Linked DNA regions of Homo sapiens. The protein of the gene in region 1 purifies or fractionates together with the protein of each later gene. This does not show direct contact. Each region holds a gene or a part of one and is shown on either strand. Other genes may lie near its edges. The genes, in order: ZNF490, TOMM34, FARS2 and NEMF.

Region 1 (6,050 bases):
ATCTTTTGTTAAAATATTTGGGCTGCCTGTAATCCCACCATGTTGGGAGGCTGAGGCAGGCAGGATGCTTGAGCCCAGGAGTTCAAGACCAGCCTGGGCAACACAGTGAGATCCTATCTCTACAAAAAATACAAAAATTGGCCAGGCATAGGGGTGTGTGCCTATAGTCTCAGCTACTTGAGAGGTTGAGGTGGGAGGGTCACCTGAGCTCAGGGAAGTCAAGGCTGCAGTGAGCTGTGATGACACCACTGCACTCCAGCCTAGGTGACAGAGTAAGACTCTGTCTCAAAAAACAAACAACAAAAAAAAGGCTGGGCGCTGGGGCTCACATCTGTAATCCCAGTACTTTGGGAGGCCAAGGTAGGTGGATGCTTGAGCTCAGGTGTTTGAGACCAGTCTGGGCAACATGGCGAAAACCCATCTCTACTAAAAATAGAAAAAAATAGCCAGATGTGGTGGCGTGCACCTGTAGTCCCAGCTACTCAGGAGGCTGTGGTGGGATCATTGCTTGAACCCGGGGGTGGAGGCTGCATTGAGCCAAGATTGTGCCACTGTCACTGGGTGACAGAGTGAAGGAGACCCTATCTCAAAAAAAAAAAAAAATGGCCTTTTGTATTCAGTTCTTAAAATAGCTCTAGAAGAGTTCCAGAGTGACAGGTGGAAGAAATGTCTTTAGTTATTCATAACCATCCCCTTTCCACCACAGCTAAGTTTATGTTAATGGGGTGATTTTTGGAAAGCTCCTACAAACCACAGGATGTGAGGCTAGTTGCCAGGGAACCAACCATGTGACTGGAGCTTTGAAACTTTCAGCTCTGTCCCCACCTCCAGGGAGGGAAGAGAAAACTGAAGGTTGAGTTGATCACCCATAGTGAATGATGTGATTAATCATGTCACCATAATAAAGCCACCATAAAAACCCAAAAACACGGCTCAGAGAGCCTTCTGGTTGGTAAATAAGAACATAACCATATGCCTGGAGGTATCTCTTCATCTGGCTGTTCATTCGTATCATTTAAAATATCCTTTGTAGGGCCAGGTGTGGTGGCTCACGCCTGTAATCCCAGCACTTTGGGAGGCTGAGGCAGGTGGATCACTTGAGGTCAGGAGTTCAAGACCAGCTTGACCAACATGATGAAACCCCATCTCTACTTAAAATACAAAAATTAGGCCAGGTGCAGTGGCTCACACCTATAATCCCAGCACTTTGGGAGGACAAGGTGGGCGGATCATGAGGTCAGGAGTTCGAGACCAGCCTGGCCAGCATGGTGAAACCCTGCCTCTACTAAAAACATAGACACACAGAAAAAAAATTAGCTGGGCATGGTGGCATGGGCCTGTAATCCAGCTACTTGAGAGACTGAGGTAGGAGAATCACTTGACCCTGGTAGGCAGAGGCTGCAGTGAGCCAAGATTGTGCCACTGCACTCCAGCCTGGGCAAAAGAGTGAGACTCTATCTCAAAAAAAAAAAAATTAGCCAGGCGTGGTGGTGGGCGCCTGTAATCCCAGCTACTTGGGAAGCTGAGGCAGGAGAATTGCTTGAACCTGGGAGGCAGAGGTTGCAGTGAGCTGAGATCGCGCCATTGCACTCCAGCCTGGGCGACAAGAGCAAAACTCCGTCTCAAAAAAAAAATAATAATAATAATAAATAAAATAAAATATCCTTTGTAGGCTGGGTGCAGTGGTTCACACCTGTAATGCCAGCACTTTGGGAGGCCAAGGCAGATGGATCACTTGAGGTCAGGAGTTCGAGACCAGCCTGGCCAACATGGTGAAACCCCTTCTCTACTAAAAATACAAAAATAGCTGGGCGTGGTGGAGGATGCCTGTCATTCCAGCTACTCGGGAGGCTGAAACACGAGAATCATTTGAACCCTGGAGATGGAGGTTGCAGTGAGCCAAGATCGTGCTGCTACACTCCAGCCTGGCAACAGAGTGAGACCCTGTCTCAAAATAAAGAGTAAACAAATAAATAAATAATAAAATATCCTTTGTAAGACTAGGCACAGTGACTCACTCCTATAATCTCAGTGCTTTGAGAGGAGCGAGGTGGGAGGATCTCTTGAGACCTGGAGGTTGAGACTAGCCTGGACAACAGAGCGAGACCCTAACTTTACAAAAAATAAATAATTAGTTGAGTGTGGTGGCACATGCCTATATTCCTAGCTACTTGCGGGGCTGATGAGGGAGGATCGCTTGATCCCAAGAGTTGAAGGCTGCAATGAGCTATGATCCTGCCACTGCACTCCAGCCTGGGAGACAGAGTGAAACCCTGCTCTATTAAAAAAAAAAAAAACACTTTGTAATAAATGGGTGAATGTAAGTAAAGTGTTTCTGTGAGTTCTGTAGGCTGCTACAGCAAATTAATCAAACCCAAAGAGTGGGTCATGAAAACCCTGATTTACAGCTTGTTGGTCAGAAGCATAGGTCACATCCTGGGACTTACAACTGACATTTGCAGTGAGGGGCATTCTTGTGAGCCGTTAGCTTTTGGTATTGGACTCCGTCTCCAGGTAGATACTGTCACAATTAAATTGAATTATATAGCACACCCAGCTGGTGTCTGCTTGAGAAGTGGTTATTGGTGGACCAGAAGTGAAGTATTCTGTTAAATATTTTGTTAATGGTTTTCCTATCCCTTTAAGAAAAGTGTATTTGAGACCCTCGAATAGGATTTTTTTTTAATTTAATTTTTTTTTTTGAGACAGAGTTTTGCTCTTGTTGCCCAGGCTGGCGTGCAATGATCTTGGCTCACCGCAACCTCCACCTCCCGGGTTCAAGCAATTATCCTGCCTCAGCCTCCCAAGTAGCTGGGATTACAGGCATGTGCCACCACGTCCCGCTAATTTTGTATTTTTAGTAGAAACAGGGTTTCTCCATGTTGGTCAGGCTGGTCTCAAACTCCCGACCTCAGGTGATCCACCCACCTCGGCCTCCCAAAGTGCAGGGATTACAGGCATGAGCCACCGCGCCTGGCCTAAAATAGGATTTTTTTTTTTTTTCATTTTAGAGACAGAGACTCACTCTATTGCCCAAGCTGGAGTGCAGTGGCACAATCATAGGTCATTGTAGCCTCCAACTCTTGGACTCAAGGGATCTCTGCTATGGGACTACAGGCACATGCCACCACCCTGGGTAATTCTTTTTTTTTTTTTTTTTTTGAGACAGGGTCTCTATCTGTTGCCCAGGCTAGAGTGCAGTGGCATGATCTCAGCTCACTGCAACCTCTGCCTCCTGAGTTCAAGCAATTCTTCTGCCTCAGCCTGCTGAGTAGCTGGGACTACAGGTGTGCACCACCATGCCCCGCTAATTTTTTGTATTTTAGTAGAGATGCGGTTTCGCCATGTTGGCCAGGCTGGTCTTGAACTCCTGACCTCAAGTGATTTACCCACCTCAGCCTCCCAAAGTGCTAGGATTACAGGTGTGAGCCACTGCACCTGGCCAATTTTTTTTATTTTTATAGAGACAGGATTTCACTCTGTTGCCCAGGCTTTGATGTCCTTTTATAAAAGGAATCACTGGAAGATTTTTATTTTAATGATCAGCAAAGGCCTAAAAGTCCATGACCATTCACAAGTATCATTTCCATATGGTAGATTTCCAGCACATGTTAGGAAAGAAAAAAAATGAACAGCTTTGTGTTTTACTAAAGAACAAATAAAATCCCATTTTTATTCAATATTTCAATAATTTATGTTTGCACATCACTGTGGTGACTAATGTGATTTCATAATCATTAGTATTTCATTTGATTAGCCCCACCCAATCATACCTCCCATCTTGCAAATGAAAAAAGTTAAGTATGGAGAGCACAAAGTCTTGTCTAAACTCATATGGCTCATAAGTAATAATGAAATTGGCCAGGTGTGGTAGCTCACGCCTACCATCCCAACACTGGGAGGCTGATGTGGGAGGATCACTTGAGTCCAGGAGTTCAAGATCAGCCTGGGCAACATAGCAGGACCCTGTCTCTAAAATTTAAAAAATTTAAATTTTTTTTTTTTTTTGAGGTGGAGTCTCACTCTGTCACCCAGGCTAGAGTGCAGTGGCATGATCTCGGCTCACTGCAACCTCCACCTTCTGGGTTCAAGCAATTCTCCTGCCTCAGCCTCCCAAATAGCTGGGATTACAGATGTGCACAACCACACCTGGCTAAAAAAAGAATTTTTTTAAAATTAGCCAAGCGTGGTGGCGCACACCTAGTCCTAGTTCCAGCTACTAGTCCCAGCTACTAGGGAGCCTGTGAAGTTGAGTCTACAGTGAGCTGTGATCTTGCCACTGCACTCCAGCCTGGGTGACAGAACATAATAGTAATAGTAATACAATATAATAACAGTAATAATAATGGAACTTCTCAGTATTAAAGTCCAAATGTGTGCCACCACATATACTGAGCACTGTCAAAAACTGAAAACTCAGGCCAGGCATAGTGACTCACACCTGTAATCCCTGCACTTTGGGAGGTTGAGGCAGGAGAATTGCTTGAAGCCAGGAGCTTGAGACCAGCCTGGGCAACACAGCAAGATCCCTGTCTCAAAAAAAAAAAAAAGGAACAAACAAGAACAGCATAGCATCTGCAGACAGAGAAGCAGCAGCAAATCAGTGGAGGCCAGGATTGATAGCTTCCCCATTTCGGGTTTTGGTAGACAGGAAGGACGGTGACCCAGACACTGAAAAATACCAGCATGCTGAACTTAAGGATTGGCTTATTGAAAATGTCAGGCAAGTTCCTGGCCAGAAAAGCCACATTGAAGCTCCCATGAGCCAAGGAACCCAGGATTCACAGAACAGTCAATAACCAAATCGTGGTTTTATGTGAAGATGACATATTCAGGCTCAGATTATGTATCCACATGCATGAAGGCTGTAGTCATTCCCCATGAAATTCCTCCCACTTCAGCATCCCAAAGTGTTGGGATTACAGAGTCACTTAGATCAGGGAACTGATAGCAATGACAAAATTAGGTACCCCCGACACTAACCCGTGCCTTATCCGTCTCTTGCATGTTTACCTTGAAGGTCAGAACTGCAGTGATCGTTTTGTCCAAACTATGCAAACAAGTAAACATGACTCCAAATTTGTGGTTTTTGTGTTTTTTTGAGACAGGGTCTCGCTCTGTTGCCCAGGCTAGAGTGCAGTGGCACCATCACAGGTCACCGCAGCCTCAGGTTGAAGCCATCCTCCCGTCTCAGCCTCCCGAGGACCTGGGACTATGCCACCATGCCCAGCTAATTTTTTATCTTTATTTATTTATGTATTTATTTATTTATTTATTTATTTATTTTTGAGACAGAGTTTCACTCTGTTGCCCAGGCTGGAGTACAGTGGCGCGATCTCAGCTCACTGCAACCTCCTCCTCCCAGATTCAAGTGATTCTCATGCCTCAGCCACCCAAGTAGCTGAGATTACAGGTGTGCCTCCCACCATGCCCAGCTAACTTAAAAAATATTTTTAATAGAGATGAGGTTTCAGCATGTTGGCCAGGTTGGAAACCAACTCCTGGCCTCAAGTGATCCACCCACCTTGCCTCCCAAAGTGCTGAGATTACAGGCATGAGCTACTACACCCAGCCATTTTTTTTATTTTTTGTAGAGACAGAGTCTCACTACATTGCCCACACTGGTCTCAAACTCCTGAACTCAAGCAATCCTCCTACCTCAGTCTCCCAAAGTGCCAGGATTACAGGCATGAGCCACTGCACCCAGCCCAAATGTGATATTCCAAAGGATGCAGGTGGCTGTGTTGGGATGGCCAATGAAGGTAAGGGACAATGGAAGTACAGGGTGAGGGCAATGAACAGGACATACCTGAGAGCCTGGTTATTGGCCTTGACTATGGGAGTGCCTTCACAAAGACCCGAAAGACCCCCCCACAAAGAGGTCATAGAAGGACAGACCCAAATGGTCATTATAAACAAGGAAGGTAGCCACGCTGACAGGTAGCGATCTCACTTACAGTTTGAGTCTTGATGCTTTGTCCATGGTGTTCACTGTTCTGCATCTAATTAGAAACAAGAGGATGCATTTTGTGAGTTTCAGCAATTTAGAA
Region 2 (6,050 bases), on another chromosome or scaffold:
AGCTGTGACTCCCTGCCCAGAGTCTTGCAATCTCCCACTATCCATTTTCTTTAGAGTAGTCCTGCAAAAATTGGCATTGTTTAGCTGAGTTATAAAAATAATCTTAGGAACAAAGTATAAAACAAAATACAAGTCTTCACCTCTTAGAGACTGTTTTCTCAGCTGTATAGTGAGGGTGATGATAAAGTCTTCCTCACAACCATGAGGACTGAATGACATAAGACATGTAAAACTCCCAGCCTGGCACATAGGCATGCAGTGTGAGTTCCCTTCTCTTTCCTCTGGTAGCACTTGGGATGTAGTACTTAGGATGTTTTTGGTTGCAAAAACAGAAAGCTCAACATGGTAAACATAGTATAGGGAATTTATTGGCTCATAAAACTGAAAAATCCGAGAGAATTCAGGCAAGGTTTGCTCCAGCAGCTCAGTATATTAACAGACTAACTCCATTTTTCTGTACTTATCACAGCTTTATTTTCTGTTGTGCGTCAGCTTTGTCTTTGGCAAGCTTCCCTCCTAGTAGCAAAATAGCTATAGCAGTTCCCGGCCTCACATCCATACCCCATGCCTCATGACCCAGAGAAAGAAAGTCTTTCTCTGATAGCTCACTAGGAAAAGATAGGATTTTTTTCCCCCAAAAAACTCTAGCTCACATATTTTCTCAATCATTTTCTCAATCTATTCTGGTCTTCATGGTCACAGGCCATTCCCTGAAGTACACACCATAACCGGCGGATGAGATTTTGTGATTAGGTCACCCTGAGGCACCTGCCCCACCTCCAGAACTAGAGGGTGATGCTTCCCAGGAGCATGTACACTGTGTGAATCCCTGGAGAAGCATGAAGAAGAGAAAGGAGATCCAAGCAGCCAAAAACAGGAGATTCCTCACCTCAACTGTATGAAATGAAGAGGCCATTTGTCAGGCACTAGGAAGCTCTTTTAATGCTCCAGGGGAATGGTCCCAGCCCAGCAAGCTAGGGATTCAGGCTAGAGGTGCAGAAGGGATCAGAGATGGAGCCCTGCCATGTGTAAGTGACCTATAGGTGTTAGGGGAGGACAAGAGTTACTCACCTTCTACAGGAGAATGCCTCTCTGGTCATGGGTAGCATTCACTCTGGTTTGTGGGAGCCTGGTAAGTGTTCCCCACTCTTCTCTAGGATGAAAATGTGCGGTGCTAATGAACCTGATGGCATCAGTGCCATTGATTTCATTCTTTCAATCAGTGCACCTACCATTGATTTCATTCTTTAAATCAGTGCACCTACCATTGATTTCATTCTTTCAGGGTCACTGAGCCATGTGTTCCAAGCCATGTGTATGCTAAGCAGTGTGACACAGAGGACAGTCTTGGCCCTCAGGGAACTCTCCCTCAGTTGAGGGACTGAGACATGTAAACAGTGTCTTAAAACACAAGGAGGAGGAACATGTGCTTTAGAGTCTTAGTGTTTGAGGACTTCAGGATAGAAACTGACTTAAGTGCATGAGGGAGTCGGGGAAAGACTCAGAAGGGGTGGCAATGGAGGTGGAGCCTTGAGCTGGACCTTGAAGAAGGTCATCAGGTGGGAAGGAAGGAGAATCCTTGGCAGAGACAGTGGAGAGAGTTGGAGAATGAAAGTGCATGGGGGGAACAGTAGGAATAAGGATGACTGCAGAGTGGTGTGTTGCAGGGTGCCAGTGAAGCTGAAGCCCTACTTCAAGAGAAACCTGTGTGCATGTGCACAGGGAGATGTACCCACAAATGTTCGTAGAAGACTGTAATAGCAAAAAACAACTGGAGATAACCCAGATCTCCATAAATGGGAGAATGGACAATTCAGCTTTGGTATTGCAGCAATGAAAATGAAGGAGCTGCAGGTCTGTGCATCAACACAGATGAATCTCAGAAATATAACATTAAGGGGAAAAAGAAAAACCAAGTCATAAAAGAATACACAGACTTATTCTTCTGTATGAAGTTCAAAAACAAAGTAAACAGCAAATGATCTGTGGGTACTGTTGTATATAGTTATACTGTTTAAAAAGGTGGGGAAGAAGCACAGAATTGGGGATAATAGTTTCCTCCAGCAGTGGATTGAATTGAGGAAGGTCCCCCAGGACTTCAAAGGTCCTAGTTATGTTCTTTTTCTTAAACCAGGCAATGAATTCAGGGTGTAAACCTATAATCTTACCCTGGTCATAAATATTTAGTATTTTATAAAGATAGTTTTAAAAATTTTTGAAAAGCAGATGATATGGAGCTGAGGCTGGAATAATTAATTGGGGCCAAGCAGTGAAGGGCCTGAACACCAAGTTGAGCAGCTTGGATTTCACCATGTTCCCTCTGCTTCCTCTCCTTGAAGGCTGGAGCAGAGCTGCATGTGTTAGATGAGGGAGGATACTCACAGGCTCAGCCCAAACCAGAAATGAGGAATAGCAGGCTCTTCTCCCCTTTTCTCATAGCCCAGAAGCTATACCTTTTCTTTACCAGATATTTGTTTATTAGTATTTATTTACTTATTGTCCTGCTTTAAGTTTATAGTGTGTTCCGTACTTTCTTACATACTCTCAGATTTGACCCTGAAAATAGCCATCTGTGGAATTAGTATTGCCCTATTTTATTGGTGAGGAAATTGAGGTCCAAAAGTTAGGTAGGTCACACAAGATCTTCCAGCTACCAAGAGGCAGTGCCAAGGCTAGAACCTGGGTTGCTTTTTATCATTTATATATTTTTATGTGCATGCAAAAATGTTTTTATATCAGGATTCCCCAACTTCTTGATGAAAAACTGTTGAATTGCCCAGAAGCTATTAATTGGGGGAAGTCATTAATCAGGAAGGATGATTTACAGCAGGGGAGGAAATCTCTGGGAGAGAGGATTGTAGTCAGTTTGGAAGGGACGATGCTGAAGAGACCTCACTGATCTCAGTTGGGTGCTGCTCCATGGTTTTTTTCCTCTTCTGAATTTGTATCTAGTGCCTTCTGCTGGGGATGTGGAGAAAGCCAGAGTTCTGAAGGAAGAAGGCAATGAGCTTGTAAAGAAGGGAAACCATAAGAAAGCTATTGAGAAGTACAGTGAAAGCCTCTTGTGTAGTAACCTGGAATCTGCCACGTACAGCAACAGGTATCTCCTATACAGCTGCTGGCCTGGGGCATTTCAGGACATTTGTTCCATAGTCTTCTCTTGGACTGCAATGGGCCCTTCATCCCTAGCATTTAGTCAAGTATGTTATGGCTGAAAACATGCATCCACGTTGTGAGCTAGCCATGACCAGTGGCATTCATTCTCTCAAAAGGGTAGAAACTGAGGGATGCCAAATGGTAGCCTGGGCTTTGTTGGCCCCTGTCCCCAGAATTTTCATAAGCATGCAATGTAACTAAAAGCAGTGTGCCTGCTCTGCAAACACAACCCTAACACAAGTCTCTTAGCCTGTCCACCCCACCACGCTACGCTGCTCCCTACCCTTCTCCAAGACCCTCCTGTTAGAAATTCTGGCACCATTTCTGTCTGAGAGTACTGGCCCAGAAGCCAAAATGTGAAGTAACCATTGCCTGGCATGAGAGCAGGAAGGATGGGTACAGTCTAGCCTGAAAGGTTAGACTTGTGGGCCTGTAGAAAGTCCTGCACCAGGAGCTGCCGTCAGTGACCACTGACTGAGAACCTGGGAGCCAGGGTGCGGTCCCTTCACTGTGTAGGAGTGATTGTTCTCCAACAATGCTCGTATAGGTGGTCTTTCTGTTTTAGTGTTTAGAAAATTGAGGCTCAGAGAAGGAAGGGTTTTGCTTTAAACTCAGCCAGCCAGTAAATGTTGGCACAAGAATTGGAATCTGACTTCAACAAGATCTTCCTGTTACTTTTACTCTCAGAAGCTTGAAACATTCAGCAAGAGACCATATCAAAACCAAATGCTTAGTATAAAACATTATAAAATGTTAGAAATCTGTTTATCCTTCCCTACCAGCATACACATATCACTCTCTAGTTCAAAAATCTTGGATCTAATATAGACACATTGTTCCTTATTCCAAACTCTTGAGATAAAATGTGTTTTCCAGCCACGGTGGCTCAATGCCTGTAATCCCAACACTTTGGGAGGCTGAGGCTCCGGGAGGATCACTTGAGGTCAGGAGTTTGAGACCAGCCTGGCCAACACGGCAAAACCCCATCTCTACTAAAAATACAAAAAATCAGCTGGGCGCTGTGGCACATGCCTGTGATCTCAGCTACTCAGGAGGCTGAGGCAGGAGAATCACTTGAACCCAGGAGGCAGAGGTTACAGTGAGCCAAGATTGTGCCACTGCACTCCAGCCTGGGTGACAGAGCGAGACTCTGTCACAAAAAAAAAAGAAGTGTTTTCCATTTTAGTGAGGTAATATGGTCTGAATTATGTAACACCCCAGCAGTGTCTGGGGCAGCTTGCAGAAGTTAATTATTAGTATTTCTGCCAGTGAAACTTGAAAATTCCATGTTCACATGGGGTGGAATAGAGAAACTAAATAGCTTCATGTCAGTTCAGATCAGGTTTTGCTGCCCAATGAGTTGGAAAGAGAACTTGTAGTTTTAAAGCTTATATTTTGGAATTTTGCACCTGTGGTTTTATGTGGTTTTATTGCTGATTGGACCAGAGGGGCCACAATTTGCCAGGCTAATTTGAAAAAGAAGCCTGCAGCCTATTTGTTCCATATTTGTGTGGCATCTTCTAACTCCTCTATCTCTGGACCCTCTTTCACATTGCTTACCTTATGCTGCTGGACACCTCCATTAACTCATTTTTCTGGATCATTACCATATTTGGAGCTGTGTTTTGTCTTGTTTAGATACTGTTCTTCATGCAGGTGTCTGTGCCACACTGTTTTAATTGCTTTTGCTTTATAATATCTTATAGGGCTGGTCTTTTCTTCATTCTTCTTAATCAGAGCATTCCTAGTATTTTCCCATGTTTGTTCTTCTAGCTAAAGCTTCGGATCATTTTGGCAAATTCCAAAAAATGTCTTGTTGGACAGCTTTTGGTTGTGATTGCATTGGATTTATAATTTAATCTAGAGGACTAATGACAAAACAACTTTCAGCCATTGTGGCTAACATTTTATCATGTCCTGGAACGTCTTGGACATAGTCTAATGCTCCACCTCATGTACGCCCATCTGAATGACACAATGCCCAGGCTTTGGCTTACTTTGGCTCCCTTTGTGCAGGTGACATCTGAGTGCATAGCACCTACAACTTGCCAGCCCTGAAACAGCTGTCATAAGAATCTCACTTGTACTCACAACAGTTCTTCAGCTTAGATCATTGTCCTGTGTTACCTAATCAGGCTCAGAAAGATGAATTAGTGACCACAAAGTTAAACAACTAGTACATGGTGGCTGAGATTTAAGCCAGATCTTTGTGACTCCAAAGCTTATTTCCCTTTCACTCACTTGTGTTATTTCCCAACCCCTTTGTAATTAAAACCCTTCTGACTGGATACAGTTACTTCATTTACCAAAAGTCAAGGGGGTTTATTTTATTGCCTGAAGTTATGCATTTTGTTCATCTTAAATATAGTCTTTAGAAGTCTCACATGACCCTATTAATCACATTTCTATTCTGAAGTCACGATACACGGTGGTTCCTCTGCTTCCCAGACACTTGGCTATTTCTTTAAATTGCCAAGCCCATTGGGAGGAAACTTTAATTTCCTTAGAATTCCTCTATGTTTAGAGGTGGCTCATGCCTGTAATCCCAGCACTTTGGGAGGCTGAGGTGGGCAGATTGCTTGAGGTTAGGAGTTTGAGACCAGGCTGGCCAACATGGTGAAACCCCATCTCTACCAAAAAATACAAAAGTTAGCTGGGCATGGTGGCATGCACCTGTAATCCCAGCTACTCGGGAGGCTGAAGTAGGAGAATCGCTTGAACCCAGGAGGCGGAGGTTGCAGTGAGCTGTTATCATGCCACTGCACTCCAGCCTGGGTGACAGAGTGAGACCCTGTCTCCAAAAAAAAAAAGGAATTCTTCTGTGTTCAAAGTTTAAAACGGGCTACTATTCTAAAACTTGGTGATTTACAACAACCATTTTATTTTGCTTGTAA
Region 3 (6,050 bases), on another chromosome or scaffold:
AGCTGCAGTGGTGGACAGAACAAGTTATCACTTGCATAACAGACCAACCATATTGTTGACCCACTTATCTCAAGCACAGATCCAGGTTGGTTAAAGAAAGCCGTGGTAGGCAAAGCACTTAATTCAAAATATGTAAAATGAAAATCAAAAATTAAAATCACATTTTAACTTGAGTTTCTTACCGACTAGATTTAAACAATGGGTTTCAAGGTATGCAGGAAAAGAGTCACACAGGTGAGGACTCAGGGTCCCATCAATCAGAGACTGTTGCTAGCACCCAGGAGAGTGCCCCACAGCTGGACAGAAAAATGTACAGGACAGGATGTGGAGGCCGCACAGAGAAAGACACCACAGAAGCCAACACAGCCTAGAGCATCACTTAGGAGGGCCTAAAAGGAGACCAAGGAAGAGAAATTTCTGCTTCTTGCACAATAGGATTCCCAAATGGCTTCCAGAGTTTCCTGGCCAGGGGATCCACAAGTTCATAGCTGCCAGCAGGCCTTTTCCCCATTTTCTCGCCCCACCTCTGAGATTGCAGAGAATTACAATCATTTTAAGTATTTTTCTCAAGGCAGGTCAACTGTAGTAATAAAACAAGTTTTCTGTCAACACAGTCCCCTCTTATATATGTAAATATGACTACTCTACATAAATAGTTAAAAATGGCTAACACTTTAATACTATCCTTATTTTTTATCCCTAAAGACAAACCACTCTATTATATCTGAAGGCAAGCAATCTGTCATGACGAAATAGGATATAAAATGGCACAAGTGATAGGCTAAATAATAGCCCCCTTCCACAGATATCCATCTCTTACTCCCTGGAACCTGAGAATACGTTATCCTACATTAAGATCTTTATAGATATAATTAAGGAAGGATGTTCAGATGAGGTGATTATCCTGAATATCCTGGTGGGTTCCATGTAATCAGAAGAGTCCTTCGAAGAGGGAGGCAAAAATTCAGAGAGAGGGTGAGGTGTTTACAGAGGGAAGTGGCAGGGCTTGGGGGAAGGCAACGTGATGCTGTCATAAGCTAAGAACTGAGGACTGTCTCTAGACGGGCAAAGGCAAGGGAACAGATTCTCCCCCAGAGCCTCCAGAAGGAACCAGCCCTGCTGACACCTTTACTTTAGGCCAATCAGGCTGATTCTGGATTTCTGTCCTCCAAAAATATAAGATAATAAGCTCATGTTGTTTTAAGCTTCTAAGTTTGTGGTAATTTATTATAGCAGCAACAAGAAACTAATACGTATTTTTGTATCTGGAAGTGAGGTATTGCTTGTAACAAATACATAAAAATGTGGAATTAGCCTTGGAATTGGTCAGTGGGTAGTAGATAACTTGGAGCACCATGATATTAAATGGCTATTTTGCCTTAAAGAGACTCTTGTAGAAATATGGATGTTATAGACTGTGACAGGCAAGGAAAAAGTGAGGAGCATGGTAGAGAAAACCTATACTGTCTGAGAATATCCAAATATTCATAAACATACTGGTGGTAGCAATACAGATGTCAAAAGCCCTGCTGGTGAGGGCTCGCAAGGAAATGAGGAACATGTTAGTGGAAGGTGGAGGAAAGGGGATCCTTGTTCATTCATAGCGGCAGAATTAGATGAATTGGAAGTGGAAAGCAAAACTTGTAAACAATGAACTTGGATATTTAGCTGAGGAAATTTCCAAGCAAACAGTGAAAATGCAGCCTGCTTTATTCTTGCAGGAGAAAACAGACAAATTAAGAGAACTGCTATGCAAAGAGGAGCAAGATTAGATAATTTGGGAAATTCTTAGCCTATCTATACTGAAAAAGACAAAAAGTTAGGGGTTTTGCTGAAAGAAAAGTGCTTTGGAGAGAAAGCCATGAGTGCAGCTATACAACCCTTTGTTAATGCCTCAGAAGTTTTGAAGGATCAGGGTATTTAGTCAAACAGAGGGCTCTTTGAAGAAATTAAGCATATGAGTCAAGGATCCCCTCAGGCGTCTCAGCAGAAGCCAGAAATAGCAATGAATTATTCAAGAAAGATCTGCAGAGGAGCCTCTTGTGTAATGGAATGAATCCCTATGATATAAATGGGAGAGCCACAAGGTTTTTGAGAATGATTTACCATCAGGAACACTGTCAGCTGGAATTGAGAGGGACAAAAGAACAAAAAGAGAAGGAAAGAAAGAAGGCTATTTGACTCCCCAAATTCTTCAGGCAAAAGCCAGGGTAATAAAACAACTCACCTGCATATACATGCCACCCTTAACAAAAAAGGAGGTAAGGCACAGTGGCTCATCATGCCTGTAACCCTGACACTGTGGGAGGCCAAGGCAGGCAGACTGCTTGAGCCCAGGAGTTGAAGAACAGCCTGGGCAACATGGCAAGACACCTTCTCTACTAAAAACACAAAAAATTGGCTGGGCGTGGTACCATGTGCTTGTAGTACCAGCTACTCGGGAGGCTGAGATGTAAGCCTGGGAGGTGGAGGTTGCAGTGAGCCGTGATGGCACCACTGGGCTCCAGCCTGATGAAAGAGCAAGACCTGGCCTCATAAATAAATAAAAGAACTTTAAAAAAGAAGGATATTTTAGAGGGTAGAAATACAGGTCAAATGGGTGAAGCCAAGGGCCACAGAGAATTATCCCCAGGCCTTGAAACCTAATGGCTGAATTTTGAAATAGCTTGGAACCAGTGATTCTTTTTCTTCTCCTTTCATTTTCTCCCTTTTTGAATGGAAATGTCTACAACTATTCTCCAATGCCTATCCTACTCATTGTATTTTGGGAGTAGGTACCTCGCTTCAGGTGCAAAAGTGGGGAGGAATTTTGCCCCAGGATGAATCATACCCAGAGTGTCACATAAACCAGCTTTAGATAATTAAATGATGAAATGGGACTTAGGGGCTGATGATATTTAGATGACATTTTGGATTTTGAGTTGATTTTGCAATGGGTTCAGAGTTTGTGGGACCTTGGGATAGGCTGAATGTATTTTACAAAAGACAGATGTGAATCTTTAGGGGTCAAAGGGAAGACTCTGGTAGACTGAAAAATGCCCCCAACCCTACCCAAAGATATCTACGTCCTAATCCCTGTAACCTAGAAATACATTACCTTATATTCAACAGGAAATTTACATTTCCTTTTGTATTAGAGAATTAATTTGTATTAAAGTATTAAAGGATTACTTTAAGAGAAGTATTTTGAGATGGGAAGATTATCCTGAATTACCCAGCAAGGCTTGATACAATCATAAGGATCCTTATAAGAAAGAAGCAAAGGTCAAAGAGAAGGCAATGTGACAAAAGATGAAGGAGAGAGAAAAGGCAACATGATGCATGGCTGTGATCCAAGGACTGAGGATGGCCTTTAAAAGCCGGAAAAGGTGACAGTTCACAAGGACAGAAAACCAAATACCGCATGTTCTCACTCATAGGTGGGAACTGAACCATGAGAACACCTGGACACAGGGCAGGGAACATCACACACCAGGGTCTGTCGTGGAGTGGGGGGAAGAGGGAGGGATAACATTAGGAGAAATACCTAATGTAAATGACGAGTTAATGGGTGCAGCAAACCAACATGGCACATGTATACATATGTAACAAACCTGCACGTTGTGCACATGTACCCTAGAACTTAAAGTATAATTAAAAAAAAAAAAAAGCCAGAAAAGTCAAGAAGGTGGATTCCCCCAAGAGCCTACAGAAGGAGTCAGCCCTGCTGACACCTTAACTTTAGCCCAGTTGGGTGGATTTTGGTTTTCTGACCTCTAGAACTGTAAAATAATAAATACATGTTGTTTTAAGCTACTAGATTTGTGGTAACTGGTTACCTAAGCAACAGGAAACTAACAAGAATAGATACTAATTATAAGTGAATACTTAGGTAATAGTATGATCTATAATCTATACTTCACAAAGTATTTTATGAACATATACTAAATATGAATGTACAAATCCTAATTGCCCCGTTAGAAGTTCTTAAGTTTGTTACACAAAGACAACTATAAAAATTATATATTAGTGCAGGTATGCATATATTGGCTTTCAAATTTGAAGGCAGAAAGGAGAAAAAAAATGACATTTAGTGCAAGAGATCAAGAGTCTATTTCTATGTGTCTCATAAAAAAAGATTGTTGTAAGTACACTTAAAATTGAATTTAAGCCACTTAATTCTGGTGGCAACTGTGTTTTTCATCTTTATTTGTCACACCATGGTGTTGAGCACACCATTCTACACGATGTTGGTGTTCTTTAAATGTTTGCTGATTAAATAACTGACAATATATTAAAAAGAGAATGAGAAAAAGTTACAGCCCTAGCCAGGTTTTATTGTAAATTAGATACAGCTTTATTTCAAATTAGTCTACAAGGAAATTGATGCTAAAATAAAACAGATAATTATTCAAGTAGAAGTTTTTAAAAGTCCTCATAAGGTAAAACCAAAAATATATGCATATATACATAGAAAGGTTCAAGATGCAGATGGGCACACACACAAAATCAGTGTGCTTCACTATAACAATAACAAAATACACTCATAAAAATCATACCTGTCCTTAAAGTTGATGATATGGTTTGGCTGTGTCCCCGCCCAAATCTCAACTTCAATTGTATCTCCCAGAATTCCCACATGTTGTGGGAGCAACTCAGGTGGAGGTAATGGAATCACAGGGGCCGGTCTTTCCTGTGCTATTCTCGTGATAGTGATTAAGTCTCACAAGATCTGATGGGTTTATCAGGGGTTTCTGATTTTGCTTCTTCATCATTTTCTCTTGCTGCTGCCATGTAAGAAGTGCCTTTCGCCCACCGCCATGATTCTGAGGCCTCCCCAGCCATGTGGAACTGTACGTCCAATTAAACCTCTTTTTCTTCCCAGTCTGGGGTATATCTTTATCAGCAGCATGAAAATGGACTAATACAGTTGAAAAGGTCTGTACACAAATATAAATAAGTATAACTCCAGAGAGAGATGAGCCCTTCTAGGGTAGACAGACACTGATGGCTGCTGTCGCCACTGGGGCGTGAGTAGGCAGAAGAGCTAGCCTGCTACTGGCAAAGACATTTTGTTGGAATAAGAAGAATGAGCCACACTTGCGTCAGCCAAGCATGGGCTGGCATGGCAGATTGGAAAATGGAGAAACAGAGCTAACCCTCACTGCCAGCCAATTCTCCTTCATAATATTTCTGCTTACAAACGCTGGTGGTGGAAGAAGCTGGTAAGTGGATGGAAAGCAGAAAGAGATCCTGTGATCTCACATGGTTAGATCCCAAACTCTGCTGCAGGGCTAGATCTCACCATCAAGAGGAAAGCAGATGTGAAATTCAACTCAACTCCTGATTAGAACAAAAAGATCTGGCCTAGTCACCTTAGCAGCCAGAAGGTAGAAAGCATAAGACTTTCTGGGGATAAATTTTATCTACCTCAGTCTTTGTCCATTCAAACACAATTAAAAAAAAAACAAAAAGACAAGTGAAGCAGCAGGAAATATGTAAGCCATGATTAGGAAGGGAAAACAACCACAACAAAAGAACACTAGATAATCAAATGGTTGGAATTAACAGACAAGTACTTTAAAATAACCATTATGAGGCCGGGCGCAGTGGTTCATACCTGTAATCCCAGCACTTCGGGAGGCCAAGATGGGCAGATCACCTGAGGTCAGGAGTTTGAGACCAGCCTGGCCAACATGGTGAAACCCTGTATCTACTAAAAATACAAAAGTTAGCCAGGCATGGCAGTGTATGCCTGTAATCCCAGCTACTCGGGAGGCTGAGGTGGGAGAATTGCTTGAATCCAGGAGGCAGAGGTTGCAGTGAGCTGAGATCATGCCATTGCACTCCAGCCTGGGGAACAGAGCAAGTCTCCGTCTCAAAATAAATAAATAAAATAAAATAAAATAAAATAAAATAACCATTATGAATATGTGAAAGAATTTAAGGAAGAATGGATGAAATGGATGAAAAAATCAAGCATTTCAGTAGATAAATGAAAACTCTAAAAAGGAAGCAAATGCAAATTCTAGAATTGATAAATACAGTTATCTGGGGAATGATTAATTCAC
Region 4 (6,050 bases), on another chromosome or scaffold:
ATAGACGTGAGCCACCACACTTGGCCTTCCCCTGGCAAATTTCTGTAATGTTTGAAATCAGGTAGTACAGGTTGAACATTACTAATGTGAAAATCTTAAGCCTAAAATTACTATTATTTTTGAGACAGAGTCTCTCTCTGTCACCAGGCTGGAGTGCAGTGGTGCAGTCTCAGCTCACTGCAACCTCTGCCTCCCGGGTTCAAGCAATTCTCCTGCCTCAGCCTCCCAAGTAGCTAGGACTACAGGCTCATGCCACCACGCTCAGCTAATTTTTTTTGTATTTTTAGTAGAGATGGGGTTTCACCATGTTGGCCAGGATGGTCTTGATCTCTTGACCTCGTGATCCACCTGCCTTGGCCTCCCAAAGTGCTGGGATTACAGGTGTGAGGCACCGTGCCTGGCCTGAAGTCTGAAACTTTTTGAGCACAGACGTGATGCCACAGGTGGAAAATTCCACACTGACCTTATGTGACAGCTATACAGAATTATTTAAAATATTGTATAAAATCACCTCCAGGCTATATTGCGTAAAGTCATAAATGAATTTTGTGTTTAGATTTGGGTTCCATCCCCAAGGTATCTCATTATGTATATGCAGATATTCCAAAATGTGAAAAAATCTGAAATCTCAAACACTTCTATCCCAACACATCACATAAGGGATACTCAACTTACATGTCCTCTTAACTGTTCACTTTTTTTTTTTCAAAAGAGTTTTGGCATTTGGCATTTCAAAAGATCTTCTGCATTTCCCAAGGGTCTCGCTCTGTTGCCCAGGCTGAAGTGCGGTGCCACGAACACTGCTCACTGCAGCTTCCACCTCCCAGGTTCAGGCCATCTCCTGCCTCAGCCCCACAAGTAGCTGGGACTACAGGGATGAACTCCTGGCTAATTTTTCTATTTTTTGGTAGAGACAGGGTTTTACCATGTTGTCCAGGTTGGTCTCGAACTCCTGAACTCAAGCAGTCTGCCCGCCTCAGCCTCCCAAAGTGCTGGGATTACAGGCGTGAGCAACTGCGCTCGGCCAGCATTTCCTTATAAAATTTAGAGTTGACTTGTTACTTTCTATGAAAAAAGCCTCATAGGATTTTGATAAGGATTACATTATTACTATTATTTGAGACAATCTCATTCTGTTGCCCAGGCTGGAGTGCAGTGGCATGATCTCGGCTCACTGCAACCTCCATTTCCTGGGTTCAAGTGATTGTCTTGCCTCAGCCTCCCACGTAGCTGGGATTACAAGTGTATGCCACTACACCCACTAAGTTTTGTGTTTTTAGTAGAGATGGGGTTTCACCTTCTTGGCCAGGCTGGTCTCAATTACAGCTGTGAGCCACTGCCTGGCCTGGTAAGGATTACATTAAGTCTGTGGATCAGTTTGGGGAGAATTGCCGTTTTAACTACATTGAGTCTTCTATGAAGAGAGAATGTCTGACTATTTATTTAGATCTTTAATTTCTCTCAGTTAGATTTATTCCTAAACATTCTATTCTTTTTGATGCTATTGTCAGTGGAATTTTCTTAATTTCATTTTTGCATAGAAATACAATTGATTTCTATATATTGGTTTTTGTATCCTGCAAACCTGATAAACTTGTTTATTCATTCTAGTAGGGTTTTTTTGTGGGTTCCTTAGGATTTTTTAAGGTACAGGATCATGTCATCTGTGAATAAGGATGCTTTACTTCTTCCTTTAGAATCTGAATGCTATTAATTAATTTGCCTTATTGTGCTAGCTATAGCTTCCAGTACAATGTTGAATAGCAGTGTGAGACTGAATATTCTTTCCTTGTTCCTGATCTTAGGGGGATAATATTCAGTCCTTCACCAGTAATTATCATGTTAGCTGTAGGTTTTTCATAGGTGTCCTTATAAGGTTGAGAATGCTCCCTCTATTCCTAGTTTATTGAGAGTTTTTATTAGGAATTAGTGTTGAATTTTGTCAAATGCTTTTTCTGCATCTATTGAAATGATATATGGCTCTTTTCCTTTATTTTATCAATATGGAGTATTATATTAACCAATTTTTGGTTGCCAAACCAACCTTGCATTCCAGGGATAAATCCTCATTGTGGTTGAAGCCCATTAAATTCCTATAACTTGCACTGACTTTTGTAAGTTAATTGTAGTTTCAAATTTCTTTAAGGACTAGAATTGTCATTTTTTTTTTTTTTTTTGGTTGCGGGGTGGGGCGGGGGACGGAGTTTCACTCTTGTTGCCCAGGCTGCAGTGCAATGGCACGATCTTGGCTCGCCACAGCCTCCGCCTCCCGGGTTCAAGTGATTCTCCTGCCTCAGCCTCCTGAGTAGCTGGGATTACAGGCATGTGCCACCACGCCTGGCTAATTTATTGTATTCTTAGTAGAGATGGGGTTTCTCCATGTTGGTCAGGCTGGTCTCCAACTCCCGACCTCAGGTGATCTGCCTGCCTTGGCCTCCCAAAGTGCCGGGATTATAGGCATGAGCCACCGCACCCAGTCTAAGAACTAGAATTGTCATTTCTAAGTAACACTTCAAAATAAGTAAACTTATTGTTTTCACCAGCCACTGTTATTGAGTAGATCATTGATATTGGGAAATAAATTTGTGCTATATTTTGAATGTTAAATTTTAGGCTAGGTCATGGTGGCCCACACCTGTAATCTGAGCACTTTTGGAGGTTGAGGTGAGTGGATCACCTGAGGTTAGGAGTTCGAGACCAGCCTGGACAACATGGTGAAACCTTGTCCCTACTAAAAATACAAAAATTAGCTGGGCATGGTGGTGGGTGCTTGTGATCCCAGCTACTCAGGAGGCTGAGGCAGGAGGTGGGAGGCAGAGGTTGCAGTGAGCCAAGATTGCACCATTGCACTCCGGCCTGGGCGACGGGTAAAACTCCATCTCAAAAAACAAAAACAAAAAAGAATTTATAGGAAAATACTAAAAGTAATATCCTCTGCATTTATAGCCTATGGACCAGCTCTCATTGAACACTGTCTTTTAGAAAATGGATTCTCGGGTAATGTCAAAGTGGATGAAAAACTTGAAACTAAAGGTATGTCTGCATGGTACATTTTTCATTTATTTCATTTTTTTTAAACTATGAAAATTTTTTCTGGGAAAGTAATAAGGGAGCAGGTGGTTCTAGAATGAAAAACATTTGACCAGGCACACTGGCTCATGCCTGCAATCCCAGCACTTTGGGAGGCTAAGGTGGGAGGATCACTTAAGCCTGGGTGTTTGAGGCTGCAGTGGGTGGTGACTGCACAGCTGCACTCCAGCCTGAGCAACAGAGTGAGACCCCCATCTCAAAAAACCCCACAAAAACAAGTATCACCACTCTCAAAAAAAAAAATTGAATGAGATTTTAGTGAATGTTTTAGTTTCTGCAATATACTAAATCAGTGCACTCATAAAATGACAACAGGTGCTGGTGGTGGTGTTTTGTTTTTGTTTGTTTTTATAAAATGACTCTGATGTTTATATGGAGCAAAAGCATGTGAAAATGTTCAGGATAACTCTGGAAAATACTAGTAATGATTTATTACTGTCTGTGTAACCCTTCACAGATTAAAATATGAAGCTATAGTAATTAAAACTGTAAGTTTTTGGAGAAGGAATAGCATAAAGATTCCAAAAATAATTTGAAATAATATGGGAATTTAGTTTATGAACAAAGTTCCTTTCAGGTCATGGAGGGAAAGGTGGATGATTCAATAAAAGCTACTTGGACAACAGGCTGTTCAAAATGAAACCATATATCCACATATACTGGTTATAAACATGAAATCACTATCTCTAATTTTCTTGAACGCAACATTATTTTGTAAGCACTTTCCTGTTTTTCTACATAGTTGTTTAGCCACGGTTAATTGACACTTGATTGGCACTCCTTTTTTCCTTTTTTTCCCCCACCATTAGATATTGAAAAAGTACTTGTTTCTCTGCAGAAAGCAGAAGACTATATGAAAACAACATCCAACTTCAGTGGGAAGGTAGCACCATGTATACTTACTATATATTGTTGTGATTTATTTGGGTTTTCAGAAATTAAACGTTCATTAAAGGATCATTATATATACATTTTATTTTAATTTGGAAAATTGTTATCTGTAATATGCTTATTCCAGGATAGTTTTTTTGTTTTGTTTTTTGAGACAGTCTTGCTCTGTTACCCAGGCTGGAGTGCAGTGGCATGATCTTGGCTCATTGCAACCTCTGCTTCCCTGGTTGAAGTGATTCTCCTGTCTCAGCCTCCCGAGTAGCTGGGACTACAGGCACGTGCCACCATGCCTGGACAGTTTTTATATTTTCAGTAGAGATGAGGTTTCACCGTGTTGGCCAGGCTGGTCTCGAACTCCTGACCTCAAGTGATCCGCCTGCCTTGGCCTCCCAAAGTGCTGGGATTATAGACATGGGCCACTGCACCCGGCCCAGGATAGTGTTTTAAAAGTTTTTGTTGGTTTATAAGTTTTTTTCTGTTCCCTATCTTTTATAGAAAGTACAATGTCAGGTTAGTATCGGCTCTTCAGAAAAGTTGAGGAATTTACAGTTATTTCTTTAGTTTCAGATAGAGAAGCACATTTTCATTTGTCAGCCCTTTTCAAAAATGTTGTGATTTACAGCTCCCAACCATTAAATATTTTTTGAATTACCTAGTAGCTTATGAGTGTTTTTCTTCCCTTTTCAAAGCATAACTATTTATAGAAAATTAAAATTAATATCAGTCATAGAAAGTAAACCTTTGGATTAGGTGCAAATTAATATCAGTCACAGAAACTAAATTTTTAGGTGCAGTGGCTCACACCTGTGATCTCAGCACTTTTGGAGGCCAAGGTGGGCGGATCACTTGAGACCAAGAGTTCGACACCACCCTGGCCATCATGGCAAAACCCCTGTCTCTACTAAAAATACAAAAATTAGCCAGGTATGGTGGCACACACCTGTAATCCCAGCTACTTGGGAGGCTGAGGCATGAGAATTGCTTGAACCCGGGAGGCAGAGGTTGCAGTGAGCCGAGAATATACCACTGCACTCCAGCCTGGGTGATGGAGCGAGCGCGACTGTATCAAAAAAAAAAAAAAGAAGTAAATCTTTGTTAATTATGAATAGGAATGATTTTAATGTTGCATTTTTGTAGGGATATATCATTCAGAAAAGAGAAATAAAACCAAGCTTGGAAGCAGATAAACCAGTTGAAGACATACTGACGTAAGCATATAGGCATGGGTCAATTTGCTTTGGATGTTTGTTAATGTTCTCGAATGTGATATAATAAATATGTTTTACAGGTATGAGGAATTTCATCCTTTCTTGTTTTCTCAACATTCACAATGTCCATATATAGAATTTGAATCATTTGACAAGGTGGGTTTTCCGTTCTGTTCCTTTACCAGTTAGTTAGCATGATATGAGCTGTTGATATCAACTTGCTTCTATTGAGAAACTGAAACTATACTTGCTTTACATTCACTGTGAATCTGGGCATTAAAGATCAGTGTCGTCACAGATACAGCTGTTGGAAATAATTGTTGCCACTTTATTTCAGGATGAAGGACCAGAGGTTTGAACTTCATTTGATTCTTGATACTGTTTAGCCATATAATACATTTACCGGAAATCTGTTCAAGTTCTTTGAGTGGTGTTATGAAACACAATGGAATCTAAAATTCTGTGTATGCAGCTGGGCTTGCTGGCTCATGCCTATAATCTCAGCATTTTGGGAGGCCAAGGCAGGCAGATCAGTTGAGGTCAGGAGTTCAAGACCAGTCTGGCCAACACAGTGAAACCCTGTCTCTGAAAAACTACAAAAATTAGCGGTGTGTGGTGGGGTGCACCTGTAGTCCCAGCTGTTTGAGAGGCTGAGGCAGGAGAATCACTTGAACCTCGGAGGTGGAAGTTGCAGTGAGCCTAGATCGCGCCACTGCAGTCCCGCCTGGGCAACAGAGTGAGACTCTGTCTCAAAAAAAAAGAAAAAAAAAATAAAATTCTGTGTATGCAAGTTGAAGTAGAGACTGTGCTTTTTTTTCCAACTAGTTGTTTGTTTTTTTAATAAGGCGGTGGATGAATTTT

The links.
Region 2: the proteins of ZNF490 (region 1) and TOMM34 purify together in Homo sapiens (affinity purification with mass spectrometry; one large-scale study listed by BioGRID and IntAct). This does not show direct contact.
Region 3: the proteins of ZNF490 (region 1) and FARS2 purify together in Homo sapiens (affinity purification with mass spectrometry; one large-scale study listed by BioGRID and IntAct). This does not show direct contact.
Region 4: the proteins of ZNF490 (region 1) and NEMF purify together in Homo sapiens (affinity purification with mass spectrometry; one large-scale study listed by BioGRID and IntAct). This does not show direct contact.

Annotation. Positions count from the first base shown.
Region 1 is NC_000019.10:12,603,201-12,609,250, forward strand, and holds part of ZNF490 (zinc finger protein 490), read right to left. Parts: intron 6,003-6,050; coding exon 5,958-6,002; intron 1-5,957. UniProt on the Homo sapiens protein: May be involved in transcriptional regulation.
Region 2 is NC_000020.11:44,945,780-44,951,829, reverse strand, and holds part of TOMM34 (mitochondrial import receptor subunit TOM34), read left to right. Parts: intron 1-2,952; coding exon 2,953-3,100; intron 3,101-6,050. UniProt on the Homo sapiens protein: Plays a role in the import of cytosolically synthesized preproteins into mitochondria. Binds the mature portion of precursor proteins. Interacts with cellular components, and possesses weak ATPase activity.
Region 3 is NC_000006.12:5,546,779-5,552,828, reverse strand, and holds part of FARS2 (phenylalanine--tRNA ligase, mitochondrial), read right to left. Parts: intron 1-6,050. UniProt on the Homo sapiens protein: Is responsible for the charging of tRNA(Phe) with phenylalanine in mitochondrial translation.
Region 4 is NC_000014.9:49,831,346-49,837,395, reverse strand, and holds part of NEMF (ribosome quality control complex subunit NEMF), read left to right. Parts: exon of another isoform or gene 1-61; intron 62-2,946; coding exon 2,947-3,033; intron 3,034-3,899; coding exon 3,900-3,973; intron 3,974-5,118; coding exon 5,119-5,189; intron 5,190-5,269; coding exon 5,270-5,345; intron 5,346-6,034; coding exon 6,035-6,050. UniProt on the Homo sapiens protein: Key component of the ribosome quality control complex (RQC), a ribosome-associated complex that mediates the extraction of incompletely synthesized nascent chains from stalled ribosomes as well as their ubiquitin-mediated proteasomal degradation.